Linked DNA regions of Homo sapiens: regions 1, 2, 3, 4, 5 and 7 are each reported to be linked to region 6. Evidence: microRNA targets listed by miRTarBase, many of them from high-throughput screens and not tested one by one. Region 6 holds a microRNA gene; each other region holds the end of a gene's coding sequence. Distances are from middle to middle.
What was found. Region 6 holds the annotated microRNA hsa-miR-922 (GCAGCAGAGAAUAGGACUACGUC, at 1,181-1,203, shown strand). A microRNA usually pairs through its seed, bases 2 to 8, with sites in the 3' UTR of a target mRNA and lowers its output. Matches are read on the target gene's strand: a 7mer-m8 pairs with bases 2 to 8, a 7mer-A1 pairs with bases 2 to 7 and ends in A, and an 8mer does both.

Region 1 (3,094 bases), not on the chromosome of region 6:
CACGCCCGGCTAATTTTTGTATTTTTTAGTAGAGACTGGTTTTCACCATGTTGGCCAGGGTGGTCTCAAACTCCTGCCTCAGGTGATCCGCCCATCTCGGCCTCCCAAAGTGCTGGGATTACAGTCCTGAGCCACCACACCTGTCCCCTCCCCTGCTGTTTCATCTTGGTGCTTCCTACTGATAACTCAGTATTTTGGAGTCGCATTGTCTCCCCAACGCGAGTGCAGGCGCCCCGAAGGCAGGGGTTGTCTGTCTAGTCCGCTGCCCCTTCTCCTGCTCCCGAGACCGAGGCAGACGCTCAGTAAAGAGTCCTGGTGCCTGCTGATTGCTGTCCCCGCAGCACGTGTTCTGTGAGGAGTGCCTCTGCCTGTGGCTGGACCGTGAGCGCACCTGCCCGCTCTGCCGCTCGGTCGCCGTGGACACCCTGCGCTGCTGGAAGGACGGCGCCACGTCCGCACACTTCCAGGTGTACTAGGACCGAACACTGAGGACACCCAGAAGGACGCCAAGGGTCAGCATGCCCGGACCCAGCCCTGCGGGGGCTTCCTGAGAAACAGGCCTCAAGCACTTACATCCTGCCTCTTGCCCTCCACCACCTCTGACCCCAAAGTCCCGCCCCTGTCTTGTCCTTCTGACCTTCATCTTCCTCTCTCGTTCTGTGGTATAGTGCGTGCCTCCTTCCCCTGCAAAAGGGGACGTCTTCCTAACTCAGACTTGATGCCCTTCTAGATGCATCTTCCTTCTCCACTCCAAGTCAAGGACCTGGCAATACATGAAGTTCCCACTTGTTGGTTATTTTCTCTTTCTTTTTTCTTTTCTTTTCTTTCTCTCTCTCTCTGTTTCCCTCCCTCCCTCCTTCCTTCCTTCCTTCCTTTTTTTTTTTTTTTTAAAACAAGGTCTCGCTCTATCACCCAGGCTGGAGTGCAGTGGCACAATCTCGGCTCGCTGCAACCTCCACCTCCTGGGTTCAAGCGATTCTCCTGCCTCAGCCTCCCGAGTAGCTGGGATTACAGGCACCCACCAACACACTTGGCTAATTTTTGTATTTTTTAGTAGAGACAGGGTTTTGCCATGTTGGCCAGGCTGGTCTCCAACTCTTGACCTCAAATGATCAGCTCGCCTCAGCCTCACGAAGTGCTGGGATTACAGGCATGAGCCACCGTGCCCAGGCTCACTTTTTTTTTTTTTTTTTTTTTTTTGAGACAGGGTCTGGGTCTTCACCCAGGCTGGAGTGCAGTTGGCACAATCACAGCTCACTGCAACCTTGAACTCCTGGGCCCAAGCCATCCTCCCGCCTCAGCCTCCCAAGTAGCTGGGACTACAGGTGTGTGCCACCAGGCCTGGCTAATTTTTTTTTTTTTTTAATTTTTAGTAGAGGCGAGGACTTATTATGTTGTCCAGGGTGTTCTCAAACTCCTGGGCTCAAGCAATCCTCCTGTCCTGGCCTCGCAAAGTGCTGAGTGCTGGAATTACAGGTATGAGCCCCTGTGCCCAGCCCACCTGCTGGTTATTTTAACTTAGTACCTAGTACCTAGGACTTGATGGTGCAGGCTGGGGAGGAGCCTAGAGATCACTGCCTCCCAGATAGCCCAGGCCTGCAGATTAGAATCCCTGTGAGCCCTGTGAAGTATTTTTTCTTTTCTTTTCTTTTTTTTTTTTTTTTTGTTGTTGTGAGACAGAGTCTTGCTCTGTTGCCCAGGCTGGAGTGCAATAGCACGATCTTGGCTCACTGCAACCTCCGCCTCCCGGGTTCAAGTGATTCTCCTGCCTCAGCCTCCCGAGTAGTTGGGACAACAGATGCGTGCCACCATGCCCAGCTAATTTTTTTTTTGTATTTTTAGTAGAGATGGGGTTTCACCACGTTGGCCAGGCTGGCCTCAAACTCCTGACCTCAAGTGATCCACCTGCCTCAGCCTCCCAGAGTGCTGGGATTACAGGCATGAGCCACCACACCTGGCCCAAAGTATTTTCAAAATACAGTTGTTGGGCCCCACCATATACCTGTAATGACTTAAGGTCCCAAATACTTCATGCGCAGCAGGCAAAGCATGCAGCATCCTGCTTGGATTACGTGCTGTCATCCTCACAACAGCCCTGTGATGGGGGAGGTACTGTTGGGTCCCCTGTTTTATAGATGAGGAAACTTGGGCACAGAGCTTGGTGCGGTAACTTTCCCAGGGTCACCCAGCCAGCATGGGCGGGCCAAGTTTCCAACAGAGGCCTGGTACAGTTTCAGAACCCACATCTAAAAAAAAATAAATTTATTAGAGATGAGGTTTCTAATAAAAATCCAGGTTGTCCAGGCTAGATTCAAACTCCTGGGCTCAAGTGATCCTCCCTCCTCAGCCTCCCAAGCAGCTGCAACTACAGGCACACTCCGCTATCCCCAGCAGAGCCCGCACTCTTAACCTCCGCACTGCTCTGCCCCTCAGACATTCCAGGCATGGGGCCCAGCAGACACGGTCTTCTAAAAGCACACGAGAGGCCGGGTGTGGTGGCCCATGCCTGTAGTGCCAGCATTTTGGGAGGCTGAAGCAGGCGGGTCACCTGAGGTCAAGAGTTCAAGACTAGCCTGGCCAACATGGCAAAACCCCCTCTTTACTAAAAAATACAAAAATTAGCCGGGCGCGGTGGCGGGTGCCTGTAATCCCAGCTACTCAGGAGGCTAAGGCAGGGAGAACTGCTTGAACTCGGGAGGTGAAAGTTGCAGTGAGCCGAGATTGCACCACAGCACTCCAACCTGGGTGACAGAGTGAGTGAGACTCTGTCTAAAAAAAAAAAGAAAGAAAGAAGGGAGGGAGGGAGGAAGGAAGGAAGGAAGGAAAGAAAGAAAGGTCAGCTTTGGCCCAGATGTGGTTACCCCTTGGTCTCCTGTCTTTATGTCTTTCTCCTCTTCCTATTCTGTCATCTCCCTCACTTAAGTCTCAGGCCTGTCAGCAGCTCCTGTGGACATTGCCATCCCCTCTGGTAGCCTTCAGAGCAAACAGGACAACCTATGTTATGGATGTTTCCACCAACCAGGGTAGTGGCATGGAGCACCGTAACCATCTGTGCTTCTGTGATCTCTATGACAGAGCCACTTCTCCACCTCTG
Region 2 (3,080 bases), not on the chromosome of region 6:
TATGGAGGGCAGTATGTCTATGGGTTGGTAAATCAGCAATTAGTATTTTCCATCTGCAGCTTAAATCCCTAAGGCAAGAAAGAGCTTACCTGTGACAGAATATGCAGGGACTCAATGGGTTGGTGCTGTCTAAGACTGGATTCTTAGAGTTTGGACCTTCCACATTTTACATGGAATCATTTGGCTGGGAACCCTGAGCCAACCTCAGTCCAACAGAATCTCAGTATCTGGGGGTGAGGCCTGGGAATCCATTTTGTAAAAACTTCCCTAGGAGATGCCAGTGAAAAACATGTGGGAGGCCCAGGAAACCGTGGAGAGGTCAGGAGCTAAGAGTCAGCAGCATAGGCATGGTGGCAGAACTAGGAGCTAATAAAGGCTCAGGGATCAGCACATATTAAAAATATATTGAATCTTGGCCGGGCACGATGGCTCTCATCTGTAATCCCAGCACTTTGGGAGGCCGAGGCGGGCAGATCACTTGAGGTCAGGAGTTCAAGACCAGCCTGGCCAACATGGTGAAACCCTGTCTCTACTAAAAATACAAAAATTAGCCAGGCGTGGTGGTGGGCGCCTGTAATCCCAGCTACTCAGGAGGCTGAGGCAGGAGAATCGCTGGAACCTGGGAGGCGGAGGTTACAGTGAGCCAAGATTGCACTATAGCACTCCAGCCTGGGCGACAGAGCAAGAATCAGTCTCAAAAAAAAAATTATATATATATATACACACACACATACACACACATACACACACACACACATATGGAGAGAGAGAGAGAGAGTCCTTACTATGTCCCAGGCATGTTCTAGGGTATCTTTAGGCAAAGACCCTCTCATGGCACTTGTATTTGGGAGAGACAAGACAAGAGAAACTAATTAAAACAAATGAAGAAGTTAATTCCAAACACTGATAAGCATTATAAAGATAATAAAACCAGGTGAGGCATAGAGGTTGCTTTGGATTAGCTAGGTCAGAGAAGAAATCCCTCAAAGGAGAAAATATTAGCACTGAAATCTCAAGATGAAGGAAGGAGCCATTTGGAGGCCAATGGCAGCATCTTAGAGGCAAAGGAAAGAGCAAGTGTGAAGGCCTGAAATCCCTGAGCAGAGAAGAGGTTCACCCACTGCTGTTCCCTGCCTGCCCTGCTTTTCCTGGGGGCGAAGAGACAAAAAGGATGACCCCCAAGTTTTCACTCTGTTATGATGTCCCACTAGTATGCCTTCAACTTAAGGACTAATATATTCTGATTGGTTGGATCCATTTTTATTTTGTTAGCTTATCAGAATTTCATAACTATAAGTTACCATCTCTATCTCTACCCTAAAATTGGTTATTGAACAGAACAATGCACCACTTGAGTCCAGGAGCTCCCGCCAAGCTTGTCTGGCAATCAAGACTTCAGAAGATACAGGCCTGTGTGAGTATGGCCCTTTAAGCCTAAGTCATGACATTGCTCTTTGTCTATCTGCATTCAGTGGTTCAGGCCCCTGTCCATGGCTGGTGTGACCTTTGGTGACATCCCCAGCCTCAACAGAAACCACTTCTCACTAAGCCAGCTTTACTGTGTTCCCAACAGCTAGCATGCAGGGATGCCTTCTTCCTCATTTTCACGTAAATGTGCTAATTCAAATGCTCTCCGAAGCAAATAGGCTTTTAAGGGCAAGCCTGAGAACCAAACCACGATTTATTTCACAGTTCTTCTGGAAAAGAGACTTCTAAGAACCGGATGCCCAAATGAGAAGAGCATTTTGGGTCACAGCCCACCTGCAAGTTAGGATCTGTAACATAAGAGCCAGAACACCAGATAGGCAGAGAGAGCCTGCCTGGTTTCTGAACTGAGTGAGGCAAATGTGGAAGAAATTCTAAACCTTGGGGGTGGGTTCTATTTTTTATAGCCATTCACACCCTAGGGGCATTACAGAGACCTTACAGACCTAAGGATTAAGAAGATTAATGGAGTCGATTTGATACCAAGTTTCATTTCTCAGCCTTTTCTTTTAAATTTATTATGCTTTTCTTTTCTTTTTTCATTTAAAATAAGGATTGAGACTTTGTCCCCAAGTAAGTTTCTCAAATGGCTACATTACTGAGAACCCAGACCCAAGCACAATGCTGTAGTGGGGGTGGGTAGTGGGCTGGCTTCAGCTCTGACAAATTGTGGGGGCTGATGATCTCCTTTCAGGGGCGGGGTGTGTGGTGCTGGGAGGGATGTCGGTGAGTAGAAGGGGAATGGCCTCCCTGTGGGAGACTCCGGGGCCGGCAGTCCCTGCCCAGTCCCTCCCTCTGCTTCCTCCCACTCTTCCACATGCGGAAAGGGCTCTGTGCCTCTCACAGCAGCATCTGACCCTCTGGACTGAGTCATTCGGTGTACTTGCCTAGAAGGTTCTTTAGCTCTGGGACTCACAGGAGTAAGAAGCTCAGAAAAGCACAGTGAGTCCCTGCCCAGTTCCAGGAAGCAATCTGAAAAGTCTGGTCTGGTCACCAGCAGATGACAGTTCTTTCACTTAGAGCAATTTTGCTAAGCACACTTATTTGCTTTCTCTGGAAACCTTCAGCACTAAATGTGTTGGTATTTCCACCTGAGAAGGTATTTAACTGCAAAAAATAGCAGAATAGCCAACAATAATAGAAATACTATGAGAAAGAAAATGCCTATGGCTGTAATCCCACAGGAAAGCTTGACATCAGATAGCTTAACTCCCCTTAGAGATGGCGGGTTTGCACACGTGGTCTCCTCCGAGCCTTCAAGTTTGTGCAGGTTTTCTTTGTACCATGTTAAGAAATGAATATTCGAGCAAGTGCAGTCCAGGGGGTTATGACTTAAATTAATGGTGCTCTGCTGGGACAAGATAGGGAGGAGACGGGGTGAGATGATGTTAATGCTGTTGGCAGCCAGATTGAGGTAGATTCCCTTAAGATGGCTAAGAGAATCAATGCTGTCGCATGTCAGGCTGTTGTGGCTTAAGTCTACATGGCTCATTTTTCCCAAGCTGTGGAATGCTTGCTGGTCTATAGAGAGGAGACCACAAGAGGACAAAATCAGAACCTCCAAGCTGCCCACGGTCTGAAGTAGGTTGGTCTTC
Region 3 (3,094 bases), not on the chromosome of region 6:
TCCTGGGCAGCTGCAGTCACTCGTCAGACCTGCAGGGGCTGCAGGCCTGTGGCATCACAGCCGTCCTCAACGTGTCCGCCAGCTGCCCCAACCACTTTGAGGGCCTTTTCCGCTACAAGAGTATCCCTGTGGAGGACAACCAGATGGTGGAGATCAGTGCCTGGTTCCAGGAGGCCATAGGCTTCATTGGTAAGGGGGCACCTCTGCCCAGAAATCCCGAGGGGCTCCAGAGGAGAGGACTGGGGGCACCTGTCTCCTGGGCTGTGCACATTCCGTCTGACACCACTCCCCCATCTCCCTTGCAGACTGGGTGAAGAACAGCGGAGGCCGGGTGCTGGTGCACTGCCAGGCGGGTATCTCGCGCTCTGCCACCATCTGTCTGGCATACCTCATGCAGAGTCGCCGTGTGCGGCTGGACGAGGCCTTTGACTTCGTTAAGCAGCGCCGGGGGGTCATCTCCCCCAACTTCAGTTTCATGGGGCAGCTGCTGCAGTTTGAGACCCAGGTGCTGTGTCACTGAGGTGGTGCCCCTCTGCCTGCCTGCCCCACTGTGCTGGCAGGAGCTGACTGTGGACTGGTGGGCTCCCCTCTGGGCCAGCACAGTCCCCTCACCTCTGGCAGGGCTGCTACCTCCTCAGAGTTTCAGAAGCCCCCACATGGGGGCTCTAGGAATGCCGGCATGCTGGTCTTTCCGACCTGGTGCTCTTCTGCTGGGGGACTGAGGCTGGCCCTCATTCGGGGTCGGGAACCAAGGGTGTGTCTGCTCTTTCCCTCCCCATCCTCTGGCAGAAATCAGCTAGACGCTATACCGTGGACTCTCCCTGGTCCACCACCATGTTGAAGCCCTTGGCAGCCTGAGAGCTCCAAGGAACAAGCTGTGACAACCAGGAGCCCTGTCTGTGGGTTCGTCTGCCCAGGGCCTGGAGCCCAAGCCCTGTGTTCCTGGGGAAGCTGGGGACTTGGGAAGTGATGGGTGTGTCATGTTGCGTGTGTCTGTCTGTGAGCCTTTCACACCTGTGCTGGCGCTGGAAAATTATTTGTGCTCAGCTGACATTTAACACTCCCTCCCCCGCTTCCTCCTAGCCCTGTGGGCAGGGGTTGGAAACTTAGCACTTTATATTTATACAGAACATTCAGGATATGTCAATAAAATATTGTTATATTTAAAAAACAACAACCCAGCATCTGGTCTCATCTGATACCCGGGAGCCTGCTTGGACCTCACGTTTCCTTGTGCCCTTGGGGTTTGGGAAGTGAATGGGCAGAGGGGCCAGCGGCCGGAAGGGGCAGGTCTGACCCTCCCCACAAAGGCTGCTCTCTTGGCCCCAGTTCTCCCTGGGCTGGCGTCTTTTCCCAGACAGGGACCTCGCTCCAGAGCTGAACAGGGTTGTTTCTGGGAGGCTGGGTCCCGTCCGTGACTCAGAGCCAGGCCCAGTGCTGCCCCGATCAGACCCCGCTTCCTTTTCGGAATGTGGAAGGATGCGAGTGTGTGCCTGAGGGTGTGGTCCTGTGGGGGTGGGTGGTCTTGGCCCATGCACACCTGCATGTTGCGCATGGTGTTCCTGTGGGAGCGTGTGTGCACGCCCACACAAGAGGCACTTCCCAGGCCGTGTGGGTCTCTACTTCCTCACAGCAGGCCTGCATGGCCTCCCTACTCTTCTCCCACATCCCAGGGCTGGGGCTCACAGCGTCCCCTGTTCCAGAGCTCCTTCATGTCCCCCAAAGGCATGTGGCCCTGTGTCTGGTGCAGAGGACCTGTCACCAGGGATGGGATTCATTGCTCTGCACACCCACCCAACTAGCACATCTTGGCCGAGCTTCAATTACGGGCCCAGCATAGGACTAAGGTTCAGTGGAGACCTGAGACCAGGGCCCCGCCCACGCCAGAAGCCAAGGGGTACCTGCCGACGCTGCCGGGAGGGGGTGCTGTGATCTGCCTGTGAGCAGGGGTGCTGAGGCCTTTGGAAATGGTTGTGCGGGAGCCAGTCCTGCTTCAGGCTCACTGGGACACTCGGCCATTTGGAGTGTCATCCAGCCAAGGGTTGTCTCTGCACAGTGCTACCTCTAAGGATCTGTCCGTGGTCTGTTAGGAACTGGGCTGCACAGCCGGAGGTGAGCAGCTTCATCAGTATTACAGCCGCACCCCATTGCTAGCATTACTGCCTGAGCTCCGCCTCCTATCAGATCAGCGGTGGCATTAGATTCTCATAGGAGCTTGAACCCTGTTGTGAACTGCATTGGAGGGATATAGGATGTATGCTCCTTATGAAACTCTAACTAATGCCTGATGATCTGTCACTGTCTCCCATCACTCCCAGATGGGACCGTCTAGTCTCAGGAAAACAAGCTCTGGGCTCCCACTGATTCTACATTATGGTGAGTTGTATAAAATTATTTCATTGTAGATTACAATGTAATGATAGAAATAAAGTGCACAATAAATGTAATGCACTTGAATCACCTAGAAACCATCCCCCTCACCATCCTGGGCCAGGCATGGTGGCTTATGCCTCTAATCCTAGCACTTTGGGAGGCCGAGATGGGTGGATCAACTGAGGTCAGGAGTTCGGGACCAGCCTGGCCAACATGGTGAAACCCCGCCTCTACTAAAAATACAAAAATTAGCCAGGCATGGTGGCGGGCGCCTGTTATCCCAGCTACTTGGGAGTCTGAGGCAGGAGAATTGCTTGAACCTGGGAGGTGGAGGTTGCAGTGAGCCAAGATTGCGCCATTGCACTCCAGCCTGAGCATCAAGAGTGAAACTCCATCTCAAACAGAGGAACAAACAAAAACCGGTCCCTGGTGCCACAAAGGTTGGGAACTGCTGTCTTACGGCATTCTGAATGCCTGGGAGGGTGTGCTTGTGGGGCAGGGCAGTGTAGTTTGACAGTCCGGGGGCTGGTTTTGCTTCACCTTGCTGTATACAGTTTTCTTGTCTGTAAAATGGAGTTTCATTGTTAGCCCCCACCTCTGAGGATGTAGACTTACACAAGTCAATCCATGTAGTGCCTGCTCATAGTAGGCGCTCCGAAAATGTTAGCTAACTACGGCCCTAGGAGTGAGGTTGATCTGATGTGCCGGTGTGCACATGCGA
Region 4 (3,000 bases), not on the chromosome of region 6:
TCAGAGACTATCGACCGCGAGCGGAAACGCCTGGTCGAGACGCTGCAGGCGGACTCGGGACTGCTGTTGGACGCGCTGCTGGCGCGGGGCGTGCTCACCGGGCCAGAGTACGAGGCATTGGATGCACTGCCTGATGCCGAGCGCAGGGTGCGCCGCCTACTGCTGCTGGTGCAGGGCAAGGGCGAGGCCGCCTGCCAGGAGCTGCTACGCTGTGCCCAGCGTACCGCGGGCGCGCCGGACCCCGCTTGGGACTGGCAGCACGTGGGTCCGGGTGAGCGCGCGGGGCGGGGCCTAGGGCAGAGCAGGGACGGGGCTGGGGCAGACAAAAGGCCCGGGGAGGGCAGGGTTGTCGTCTCCGCTAGAAGTAGGCGAGTGTGAAACCGCACAGGGGTAAATTGAGCCTCAGTCACTCCCACTTCCGCCCCAGGCTACCGGGACCGCAGCTATGACCCTCCATGCCCAGGCCACTGGACGCCGGAGGCACCCGGCTCGGGGACCACATGCCCCGGGTTGCCCAGAGCTTCAGACCCTGACGAGGCCGGGGGCCCTGAGGGCTCCGAGGCGGTGCAATCCGGGACCCCGGAGGAGCCAGAGCCAGAGCTGGAAGCTGAGGCCTCTAAAGAGGCTGAACCGGAGCCGGAGCCAGAGCCAGAGCTGGAACCCGAGGCTGAAGCAGAACCAGAGCCGGAACTGGAGCCAGAACCGGACCCAGAGCCCGAGCCCGACTTCGAGGAAAGGGACGAGTCCGAAGGTGTGAGTCCGCCCAAACCCTGAGCCGGCTTGGCGGGAGGGCATGGCCTGGGAAGCGGATGCCGGACCCCACCTCTTTGACCACTGTTCCCGTCATCTCTAGATTCCTGAAGGCCAGAGCTCTGACAGGCGGTGCCCCGCCCATGCTGGATAGGACCTGGGATGCTGCTGGAGCTGAATCGGATGCCACCAAGGCTCGGTCCAGCCCAGTACCGCTGGAAGTGAATAAACTCCGGAGGGTCGGACGGGACCTGGGCTCTCTCCACGATTCTGGCTGTTTGCCCAGGAACTTAGGGTGGGTACCTCTGAGTCCCAGGGACCTGGGCAGGCCCAAGCCCACCACGAGCATCATCCAGTCCTCAGCCCTAATCTGCCCTTAGGAGTCCAGGCTGCACCCTGGAGATCCCAAACCTAGCCCCCTAGTGGGACAAGGACCTGACCCTCCTGCCCGCATACACAACCCATTTCCCCTGGTGAGCCACTTGGCAGCATATGTAGGTACCAGCTCAACCCCACGCAAGTTCCTGAGCTGAACATGGAGCAAGGGGAGGGTGACTTCTCTCCACATAGGGAGGGCTTAGAGCTCACAGCCTTGGGAAGTGAGACTAGAAGAGGGGAGCAGAAAGGGACCTTGAGTAGACAAAGGCCACACACATCATTGTCATTACTGTTTTAATTGTCTGGCTTCTCTCTGGACTGGGAGCTCAGTGAGGATTCTGACCAGTGACTTACACAAAAGGCGCTCTATACATATTATAATATATTCGCTTACTAAATGAATAAGGACTTTCCAACTGCGTTTCTGAGTTTTACAGATGGGAAAACTAAGGCCAAAGGATAGGAGTGGGGTTCACACAGCTAAGTCTGAAGGGAAACTGGAAGCAGCAACCACCTCTGCACCTCACCTGGTCTAAGAGGGGTTCAGGACTTGGGCCACCAAACTCTAGGGCCTGTCCCTCAGGTGCAATTGCAGCTGCTCCTAGGCTATGCCAACCTCTGCCAGAGAGCAGCTGTGAGGGTGTGAGCAAAGACAGGAACAGCAGAGGCCAGTGGAGGGAGTGGGGAACAGGGCCAAGGGAGCTCTTGGGCTTGACTCTCAAGGCCTGAATCAGTGTGTGTGTGTGTGTGTGTGTGTGTGTGTGTGTGTGTGTGTGTGTGTGTGTGTGTGTGTGTGTGTAATGGGAGTGGGGCTGGGAAAATTGGTGCCTTCCAAGAAGGAGTGTCCTGTCCAACCCCCCGCACCCCCACGGAACCTTCAGGAGCTGCTGCTCCCAGCCACAGGAAGTAGACCATATAAATATGGAATAAATACATGACCAGTGAGAGAGGCAAAATGTCGGAAAGCAGACCCCAGGCCAGCTGGGTCTCTACTACCAGGACCCCAGGCTCAGGCCATCAATCACCCCAGGAGAAGGGAGCCCGACCCCCACCAGGACCCAGTGAGAGGTAGACAGCACAAATGCTGAAGGAGCACCAAGGGGCCAGGTAAGGGAAGGGAGAGACTGGAGTACTGGGACAACCAAAGCCATCTCATGCAAGAACAAGTTTCTATTCCCAAACCACCCCCATCCCCATCAATGCTCAGCTCTCTTCCTGCCCCCATGCCTTCCCTCTGCTCAACAGAGAGCTGGAGGCAGGAGGGCGACTCAGTTTGCCAGACATGCTGCTGCAGGTCCCCAGACCCCAGGGAGGCTGGCAAGGGACACAAACACTTTGATGTTGCCACTCCTCCTCAAGGAATGCTCCTGCCCTCCCAACACCCCCAAGAAACACCTAGGCCGTGGACGCACAGAGCAAACTGCTTCATGTTCTAGGGGCCTATCTGGAGCTTCTGTCCAGGGCCTCTGACTGCAGCCCTCAACGGACATCAGTCGGGTAGCAGGCGACCCAGCTCCGCCTCATCCAGCCGGTTGGTGGCCATGATGTGCTCCAGCTGCTGCCGGTAGCGTGCCAAGTCCTGCATGAAGTGGGGCACCCGGGTATTATCCAGCACCCCATGGGGCCGCAGGTGGTCCACATCCTCATAGGACACCTGCAGGAGGAAGCCGGGCATCAGGCATAGGCAGTGGCCCCTGGCTTTCAGGTAGCTGGTCCCAGCCCACTGCTTACAGCTCACAGCCTTTGCTCCGGGACTTCTTCCTCTCCCCTCCTGATCCACAATTAGCTACAACGTTTTATACCTCTAGACTCAATCCTTCATCTTTGCCCTTTCTCTCAACAGTTTCTTTTTGTCATAGATGCCCTACAACC
Region 5 (3,094 bases), not on the chromosome of region 6:
TATTGTCCCAATGACTTTATTTGTTGTTTAAATCAAATATAAAATTAAAGTAACAAATTGTGTCGTTTCCTTCATCCTTAATGACAAAAACTTTCCATTCAAAAACTACACTAAGACAATGTGTTCCTCAATAGTAATCCAGCTTTAATTGTAGAGCATTAATTCGCCTTACAAACAAATTACAGTCACTACGATTTATCAGTAAGTACTGTACTGGTTTTGTGTTTTCTTTTGGCAAACTTTGAACAAATCAGAGAAGAAAACATAACTATTCATCATCATGTAGAAAAAGAAAAGAAAATGAACCTCAAGTATCTACCTATGTGTCAAGTGATTCATCCTGCCAGTAAAACTAAAATCTACACTTACAGCGGAGTTTTAAACATCCTTAGTGCAAGAAACATAACCAATTAATACAGATCAACACTAATTAATGAATATGGAAAATTTTCCTATACAGAGGTAGAATCCAGGGCACAGGCTAAAACAGTATTCAGTAGTCTAAACAAGACTTGAGTCTGGTTTTATGGAATCCACTTTAAATTTTAGGTATCAGACTGTATGTACATACATACAATAAATAGACTATACAATTTTTTTAAAGTAGTTTAATAAACTCCACAAAATAATAGCAGATGCATTGAAATATTTACATAATTCGATTTTCAAATCTCTCATTCAAATAAAAGGGATAAAAATAAAATTTCTGCCTTTACGGCAGCAGAACCTCTTTCCTGAAATGGATTGGTAAAATAAGATACTTCACTGGAGAGGAACTAATTTATGTTTAAGAGGTATTCATATTCAGCTAAGAAAATACAACCCTTTTTCAGCTATATAGATTAGGGAATATAAAATGATATTTTCTACATTTTTTGACCTGTATTCAAAGTTCTAAATTCAACTTTGACTTGAAGAGAGAAGGTGATTTTGGTACCCATACAGAGTAGATCATCACAATTACAATGGAAAGATAATTAACGTTTTATATGCTGTTTATTTGCTTTTGAAAGTTTGGGTCAGAAAGGCTGTGATAATAATTCTGGCCCAAACAGGTATGCTTATACCTGACACAAATTTCACTAAAACCTAACACTTTTGGCTTGGAGTTCTTGGGATTTCGACTTTCTGAGTCCCTTCCATTTCCAAAGCATGTTTCATTGAGAGCAGGCAATGTTTGGGGATCAGGTGTATGATTCAAGACTAATTAAGATGCCAAAGTTTTCCAAGCTCACATGGGAAGAAGGTGAAACACAGACCTGCTGCTGCCACTGGCCTCCCAGAGACTTGAAAAGGGAAACAACTCAGAAACCTGTCACTGTGACCTAAGAAAATATGCAAAAACCCAAAGCATTACATATGCAAGTGACTCACACTCTTAGATTTCATATCAAATTCACTATTTGATATTCTATCATCAACTTTCATTTTACTTGATATAAAAGATTCTTATTGAGTCCATAAGGAAATCAGGGATCGTCAGAAAATGAAAAAGTATGGTCATAATTAATGAAGCATAAACCTTCACAGTTTGAATTTTGTAGAACTTCTCTAAGCACCCACAATGAAAATGCAAGTTGAGTTTTTTTTAATTCAATCATTCTGTGAAAAATACCTCAGTAAATAGTAACATTTTTCCCTTCAATGATCTTCCCACTGGAATACCCAACCCACCCTTGTTTTTTTTCTTTTTCTTTTAGATTTTTTAAAAATTTTATACAAATAGACTAACTTTGATTTAAAGTAAACATATAAAAATTGAGAAGAATATTGCTTGCAACAATGGACTTGGAAGGAGAGGAATGGATTAGGCAGGGGTACAAAGAAATGGCTCCTACTCGGTAGTTCCAGGCACATGCCCAGCACTCTGCAGAACTCTCACAGGGACACCCTCTGCTGCACCGTGTCCTTCAGCCCACAAAGTCTGACTGATTTTGTAACAACAACTTCAGGTCAGGAAAAAAACAAATGCAAGAAAATCGGAAGGCACAAGCACCCATGTGATCTAGAATGTTCTTGGGGTGAGGAATAAGGAGGGAAAGGGATACTTTTGGTTCAGCACTACAGTCAATTTCGCCATTGTTGAAGAAAAACGGTATAAAATAAGGGTGTACAGAAATGGAACAAGCACAGCCCACTGGTGAGGAAGAAAGCTCAGAAGACAGCGCGCAGAAATAGTGCAGAGAGAAATGACCAGTACTATTTATTTGGAAGTCTGCGCCATGGTGGGTACAAACTACATCCCCTGCTCTGTGGGACCAAAATCAAAACAGGGCAAAAACAAATGAACAAAAATACCCCCATCCCAAAAAAGCAGCAGAAGGAATGCAAGAAGTCTTACAGGACACACTGGCCCAGCCCTGGGTGCAGCCAGCTCTGCATCCACCGCTGCGCTCGCCAACTTCAGCTACCGCCCCCATGGGGACTCCAGAGGGCCGGGCTGCTTAACCATTTTCCCTGCCTCTCCACGACTTCCCTTTCCCTTTATTTCCTCCTCCAGGATTCGAGTCCACTTCCTCCACGAAGGAAGTGCTGTTGCTGACAGTGGGGAGAGCGAGCTGGGATCTCCAGGGCACTGACGCTTCCTCCAAGCCTTGCTGCATGGGCGCTCATCCAGGCAGCTTGACGGAGCTATGCGTAAAAAAAGAAAAGGAAAGAAAAAACAAAAACAAACCCACCCCAAGTCTGTCTTTTCTCAAACTAAAGGAGAAACTAAGGGATGGTGTGGCCTCCGGCGGGCCTCCGTAGTTAAGAGATGATGGCTGGGGACCACCGGGGCAGAGTCAGGTTGTCTGCACTGGCTGAGCGCTTCCTCGCGGATCTTCTTAGGTCCTTGTACTTGTCCTCGCAGAGGCGAGAGATGGCCTGAGGGGCAAGAAAGACAGTGTGGGTCAGGGCGGGCCATATCTGCGTCCATTGCTCACTCGTCCTGGGCGCCGAGGGCGCTGCATGAGGGACAGGCAGAGCCCCTGCCCCTGTGGAGCTCCGGCCCAGAGCCCAGCTCTCTGCTGGCAGCAGGGAGATACGAAGGGAGTGTGGACTCAGCTCTTGTTTCCCAAGAGCTTACAGTCTGAGAAAAGACTCTCAGGATGTG
Region 6 (3,094 bases):
AAAGCTTTGTCTAACGCTGCCCGGCCCTGGTCCTAGTTTAGCTTTCATGCTTCTGAGTCCAGCCCAGGCCTCCTCCCTGTGGGCAGCAGAACCCTGTAGACCACTCCCCTCCTCGGTGTTCACCCTCCCGTGCCAGTTCCTGATGTGCCGCTCCTCATTTTGCCATCTGTGTTTTTCCTCCCCAGCTCTGCCAAGCCAAAGGCTTCATCTGTGAGTTCTGTCAGAATGAGGATGACATCATCTTTCCCTTTGAGCTCCATAAGTGCCGGACCTGTGAAGGTGAGGGCAGGTGCAGGCATCGGGCAAGTGAGCCTGAACACAGGGCTCCTTGATTCCCCAGAGCCACCCCTGTTAGCAAGAGTTCGGTGCCACTCAGCACCTCGCGGGGCCTCCCCAGGGGACACCACGCCTTGGTGGCGAGAAGGGGCTGTGGCAGCAACTGACCTCTAGCTGGAGATAATACAAATTGTTTTCTTCTCTCCCCCACCTTCCCAACCTGAGTAGAGTGTAAAGCGTGTTACCATAAAGCCTGCTTCAAGTCTGGAAGCTGTCCGCGCTGCGAGCGGCTGCAGGCCCGGCGGGAGGCACTGGCCAGGCAGAGCCTGGAGTCTTACCTGTCAGACTACGAGGAGGAGCCCGCGGAAGCGCTGGCCCTGGAAGCCGCCGTCCTGGAGGCCACCTGAAGAAAGCACGTGCAGCCCTCCCTCCGGGCCGGGTCACACCTGTTGCAGAACTGAGCCACTCTTTGAAGGACTCGCCCCACCTGGGGCTTCTTTTTTTTTTTTTTTTTTTAATTATCATCATCTTTTTTTTTTTTTTTACTGACTTGTCTGACGTCTGTGTGCAGTCAGCCGTCGGCAGGTTGATGGGTCCAGAGTCTGTGGTGACAGATAATTTGTAAACACCAGGTGTTTCCATCAGAACTGACATGCGGGTCCTTCAGTGAAGCTTCTAGTGCCTCTGTCAGTGGAAGAGACAGCAAGACCAAGTTCTTCCAGCGTCTGTGGCCTTCTCCTCTAGGTTTCACCTGCATGTCAGGTATCATTTCCAATTTTCCTTTGTTTCAGTTCTGGAGCTTCTGAGCCAGGCCTTTCTCAACCACCTCTCCTGCTGCTGAAACGGGGATGGCGTTTTCCCTCTCCCTGTCCTGGACTGGGGTCAGACTGTGCCCCGAGGAGAAGCAGCAGAGAATAGGACTACGTCATGGGCATTTCGTCCACTTATTTGGGTATTTTGGGGGCCACAGAACAATCCTGACTATCCTAGACTCCTCAGAGACCTCAGAGGCAGCTGTGAATGTCCCTATGTTGCCGGGAGTTCCTGTTTGAAATATTTGAAGCATAGAGGATGCCACAAGCTGACTTTCTTCATCTACCTTGGTGATCTTGAAGCAAAGAACAGAACTGATGCTCAGGCCAGGCTCACCTGTAGCCTTACGCCGCAAGCATACGTGAGGCGCCAGCTCTGTCGCTGAAGGAGCGCTTACTCAGAGGAGCGGTCGGCCCCCTCTTGGTGTTAAGGTCTCTTAGTTAACCTGGCTTTTTGGTGCAGGTGTGATCTTTGAAGCTCAGGCAGGTCCCTGATGCCATCCTAAGGTGAGGACAGGAACCTCACCCACCATCTTCTTAGCGTGTCCCTGATGACTCTGTCCTCTGTTAGATGGTCGTTGTGCTTCTGAGTAAAAGTACAACCCGACTCCGTTCTCTCCCCTTCCTGCAGCAGAGCTGGGTCCTTCCCTGGTGGCCGAGTCTCTCTTGCCTTAGCTTCTTTGGTCAAAGTTGGAGAAAAGCTTCCTGCTATTAGTGCTGTTACAGAACTTGACGGTTTGTGGATGTGAGTGTGAATGTCCCTGTGTTCTTGGGATAACAAGAGCCTTTATGCCAATTATGCACTTAACTCTGTGTAGCCTGGTAATGTTTATCTGTTCATTTGATAATGCTGATTTTAGTGTGCTGCCCCCCTCCCCCCGTTAATGTGTGTTGATGGTGAAGTCCTTTTGATAATGCTGATTTTGGTGTGCTGCCTCCCCCTTCCCCCCCGTTAATGTGTGTGTTGACAGTGAAGTCCTTGGGTGGGGCCATGTGTGTGTTTGTGATGTTCCTTAAGTTGATGCAGCTTCTAACCTCTGTGAAAACACTGGTCAGAGTGGCTTCTCCAAGAGCTGGCAGCTCTGTGAACTAAAGCCTGCATCATTTTTGTTCTGGGATTGAATTCTGCCCATGGGCATGTCTTCTCATAGTTGCTTGCTGGTAGGAAAGAAATGGGCGTGGGTGCTGCCCTGGAAGCTGAGCGGAAAGTTGCCTGTGGTTGGTGGAAGCTGATGAGAGCTTGAGCTGGCGGTAAGAAGGAGTCTCCCAGGGAAGTGGGAGAGGCATTAAGGTGATGGCCAGGGCTGAGGCTCCACCAGCGTGAGAGGGAACATGTGGGAACTGGCCCCTGCCCTTGATTCCTCTGCCTCAAAGTTGGGATCTGAAAGCCATGTAGGGCTAGAAGACCCTGAGGCTGTTCTCCCTTCTGTTCATAGTGAGACTCAAAAAGCCAAGTCCCAGAAGTTCTGAAGGGCTGTGACTAGAAGTGCCCAGGTCCTTCAGGGAGCTTTAAGAATGACCCCACAGAACTCAAGTTTAACTAGGGGTTAGGTCCCAGATTCAGACCCAGGAGTTTATAAAAATGAGCTCTACTTCCAGTTTTGGTTTAAATTACACATCCAGGCCAGGCACAGTGGCTCACACCTGTAATCCCAGCACTTTGGGAGGCCAGTGCGGGCGGATCATGAGGTCAGGAGTTTGAGACCAGCCTGGCCAATGTGGTGAAACCCTGTCTCTTCCAAAAATACAAAAATTAGCTGGGCGTGGTGGCACACGCCTGTAATCCCAGCTACTTGGGAGGCTGAGGCAGGAGAATCGCTTGAACCTGGGAGGCAGAGGTTGCAGTGAGCCGAGATTGCGCCACCGCACTCCAGCCTGGGTGACAGAGTGAGACTCCGTCTCAAAAAACAAAAAGGTGACACATCCAGCTCTTTCTCCAGGTCACTGCGCTGGAGGACAGATGTGCCGTCTTGTCCTGCCTGTTTCACATCAGCATAGGATCAAAG
Region 7 (3,078 bases), 28 Mb from region 6:
AGTAGTAGTATGAAAGGATATGAAAACAATTTACTCTCCCCACCTATATCATACTGAAACTCTGCTTTAAAGCTCAGGAGAGAGGTGGATGCTCAGTGTTGTCTATATATCCATTATATATAGCTGAAGCTTTGAAATTAAGATGATTAACTCATCTTGAAAGAAACAGCTGCACCAATGTGATAGCAAACAAGCCATTTTTAAATAAAAACTCACTTGAAAAAAGCAAGTGCATATTTTGTGTATGTTTTGAGTGGGGACAACAGAGATCTGGACTAGATTTAAGATTATACGGTATTCTCCAATAGAAAACCCTCTTGTAAGCCCCTCCTGAATACTTAAGACAGCAGTAGGCACAGGGGCTTTCAATAAGTACAGAATGGCTGCTATTAGGAAAGAGAACAAATAAAAGGAGAGCCTACAACACAGTTCAAAATTGATACCTTAAAGGCCATAGGTAATACAGTTATAGGATGTAATCATTATTGCTGGAGCAGTCTATCCCCATATAATAAATTTTGTATTAACCGTGGATAATCTATGAAAAGTTTTAATTCCAGGCGAGATTTTCCGTTGCACCTCTCTCTCTCATACTGTGGGCCATCTCTTACTAATGCTTAGCCTGTATTTGTGTTCTGAAATTCCAAGAAGAGGGAAAAGTCAAGCATATGACAATTCTGTCATGATGATTAACTGCTAATAAATGAAAACTCATTATAGAGTACCTAGCTTTCCTTGATACTTTAATCCAATGATTAAAAATGTGATATAAAGAAATACGTAACATAGACTACAAGCTATCGTAGGTCTGGAACATGAGCCTTATATTATATTACATATTCTAATCCTACATGTAACTATCAGTAAACATCTTTTTTTAAAACATTACTACACAAAGAATTCCACAAAGCATACATTCAAACAAGAGGCATCTAAAGATTAAAAAAATTACCCGCTGTATTTTTGTATAAAAATAATCAACATTCTCTAATGTACACAAAGCCAAAAGATAAATATAGTATCTGTGATGTCTTCAGTGACATCTTTAGTCTTCTACCAGCTCAACACAATCTTTTTGAAAAGAGCAGTGAAAATGACTGAAACTCACGGACTCTTTTTTTCCCCTCCTTACTCGACTTCTGCCAAATATCTGTGTATGTTCCTTCAATTACTAAAATATCTCAATTGTGGTAATATAAGAAAAGATGAAAACAAAACATTCATCATCTCAAATAAAATTTTTGATGTCCAGGACTATAAAGCTTTCAGGGCTTCCACAAACAATTTTGTTTTAGTGTCATAATTCTATAGAACACTGTTCAGTAAAAGGTTTTGCTTTACATTTTTTTCCTCAAACATGTACATACAAAATTATATCCGATGGTTCAAGAGAAATCACTTGGTAAGTGCTTTGCAGGAAGCATGCAAACGTTTGGTAAAGGAAGTAGGAATGTGCATTCTAGCTAGTCCCAGCATGTTCAACAATAGAAAAAAATCCAAAGAGCAACCACGTATCTGCTACAAACTATTTTCTTGCCAGAAAAGGCTGTGCACTAGTTCATAGGTATAATCATATTATGTCTTCGTCAGTGCAGAGGAGCACAGAGGTATGAAAGATAATCAGAATGAATTAGTACTTTCTGAGAGTTAAATTATTTGCATGTTTGTCCTTATTTTATAGGACAATTTGTAGATTTTTTTTCTTTTTCTAGTATGATTAAACTAGAAAAAATTATTCAGCAGAATATTAATGTTATCTGAATAATACTTCCATCATATATGTTTAGTAAGCTTCATCCTTTAAAAGTATTCCTTTGGGTGAAAACAATATTTATCACTCCTTCTATATCAGAGTTTCTCAACCTTGGCAGTACCGATATTTTTGAACCAATAATTCTTTACAGTGGAGGGGTGCTGTCCTGTGCATTATAAGATGTTTAGAAACATCTCTGGCTTCTAACTACTAGACACCAGTAGCAACCCTCCCCTGAACCCACCCCCAAGCTGTGACAACCAAAATGTCTCAACATTGCCAGATGTCCCCTGGCGATCAAAACTGACCTCCACTGAGAACCACTGCTCTAAATAAATGTACAAAAACTGAGAGGAAAACGTTCTCAGTCAAACCAAATTCTTGGTCAAGTTTGGAATAGAAACTAACTCTTCTCACTTCCAGATCAGTATTGTTCATACTAGAACACAATTCCTTTTTTATAGATAAAGCATATGTCTAAAAGACATGTTTTTTAAAATGTACACTGATTTCATACGATTCTGTCACTGGACTACTAAATTATTCCATAATATACCTCTCATGACAACCTTTAGAAAACTAATAGGGTAGAAAAAATGTATAAGAAAATTGAATCAAAAGAGGAGAAATGTAAATCATTAAATTACTTTTAAAAGGATTCTTTATATTAATGATAAACATCACCTTTAAAAAAATTATCTAGTATAACACATTTCTTTGAAAAATATCATGGCCCTCTGTAACAAGTCTTTCAATGTTTCATGTAACCTGTAAAATTAATTTTACCAATGTTTATTAATTATGAAAATGCATGATGAATTATTATACCTGTAGAAGAAATGTCAGTATTTGATGTGGAGATCCCAATGTGCTTGGCTATCCACCACAATAAGTGTCATATTCTAGACCAAGTTAGGCCTTTACCTTACAAGTTTTTGTGAGAAAAGTAAAACTGCTGTTTTATCAAGGCTTCATGTTCCTGTTAAGATTCCTTCAGAGAGTTGATGCGTGCACAGATCTTCAGGGCTGGGCCTAGCTTGATATTCATTGCACTCATGAGATGGTCTTCTTTCAGCAAGAGAAGGGCCTGTCCATCAATCTCCTGTGCTCTGAATTCATCTGCGATATCCTGGCAGCCTGGAATTTGACCAGAGGACAGAAGTTAGAATTAAATATACAACAATTAGACATTACTCCTAACAGTCACAGTTATGCTCTCACTGGGTCTGAGAATCTGAAATACAGGCTGAGAAACAAATGAAATTTATTTATGGTAGTCTTGAGTTCACTCTTGAAGAATAGAGTATTTGCATTCTGAAAATAAG

Region 1: miRTarBase lists RNFT2 as a target of hsa-miR-922. The part of its 3' UTR that is shown has no 7-base or 8-base seed match.
Region 2: miRTarBase lists CD180 as a target of hsa-miR-922. Seed matches in the 3' UTR shown: 7mer-m8 at 2,480-2,486 and 7mer-A1 at 334-340.
Region 3: miRTarBase lists DUSP2 as a target of hsa-miR-922. Seed matches in the 3' UTR shown: 7mer-m8 at 707-713.
Region 4: the mRNA of MATCAP1 is a reported target of hsa-miR-922. Seed matches in the 3' UTR shown: 7mer-m8 at 1,788-1,794.
Region 5: miRTarBase lists CCNY as a target of hsa-miR-922. Seed matches in the 3' UTR shown: 7mer-m8 at 2,315-2,321 and 7mer-m8 at 719-725.
Region 7: the mRNA of PHC3 is a reported target of hsa-miR-922. Seed matches in the 3' UTR shown: 8mer at 1,737-1,744.

What each region holds. Positions count from the first base shown.
Region 1 is chr12:116,848,973-116,852,066 of GRCh38, forward strand. It overlaps RNFT2 (ring finger protein, transmembrane 2), which reads left to right. Exons shown (of 11, transcript NM_001382266.1): 11 at 342-3,094. The coding sequence ends at 476. Among named protein-coding and RNA genes, the nearest start is that of HRK, 31 kb to the right of the region's middle.
Region 2 is chr5:67,180,303-67,183,382 of GRCh38, forward strand. It overlaps CD180 (CD180 molecule), which reads right to left. Exons shown (of 3, transcript NM_005582.3): 3 at 1-3,080. The coding sequence ends at 2,555. Among named protein-coding and RNA genes, the nearest start is that of CD180, 15 kb to the right of the region's middle.
Region 3 is chr2:96,141,249-96,144,342 of GRCh38, reverse strand. It overlaps DUSP2 (dual specificity phosphatase 2), which reads left to right. Exons shown (of 4, transcript NM_004418.4): 3 at 1-189; 4 at 306-1,174. The coding sequence ends at 520. Among named protein-coding and RNA genes, the nearest start is that of DUSP2, 2.6 kb to the left of the region's middle. RefSeq lists an enhancer at 1,684-1,753 and silencers at 2,804-2,853, 2,914-2,963.
Region 4 is chr16:67,174,194-67,177,193 of GRCh38, forward strand. It overlaps MATCAP1 (microtubule associated tyrosine carboxypeptidase 1), which reads right to left. Exons shown (of 7, transcript NM_001040715.2): 7 at 1,406-2,782. The coding sequence ends at 2,618. NOL3 (nucleolar protein 3) reads left to right here. Exons shown (of 4, transcript NM_001276309.3): 2 at 1-271; 3 at 428-751; 4 at 854-1,544. The coding sequence ends at 861. Among named protein-coding and RNA genes, the nearest start is that of NOL3, 5.2 kb to the left of the region's middle. RefSeq lists an enhancer at 1-234 and silencers at 132-391, 1,765-2,194.
Region 5 is chr10:35,568,825-35,571,918 of GRCh38, reverse strand. CCNY (cyclin Y) reads right to left here. Exons shown (of 10, transcript NM_145012.6): 10 at 1-2,865. The coding sequence ends at 2,749. Among named protein-coding and RNA genes, the nearest start is that of GJD4, 35 kb to the left of the region's middle.
Region 6 is chr3:197,672,607-197,675,700 of GRCh38, reverse strand. It overlaps MIR922 (microRNA 922), which reads left to right and starts at 1,125; the gene lies at 1,125-1,205. RUBCN (rubicon autophagy regulator) reads left to right here. Exons shown (of 20, transcript NM_014687.4): 19 at 186-279; 20 at 505-3,094. The coding sequence ends at 683.
Region 7 is chr3:170,094,495-170,097,572 of GRCh38, forward strand. It overlaps PHC3 (polyhomeotic homolog 3), which reads right to left. Exons shown (of 15, transcript NM_024947.4): 15 at 1-2,890. The coding sequence ends at 2,736. Among named protein-coding and RNA genes, the nearest start is that of GPR160, 58 kb to the left of the region's middle.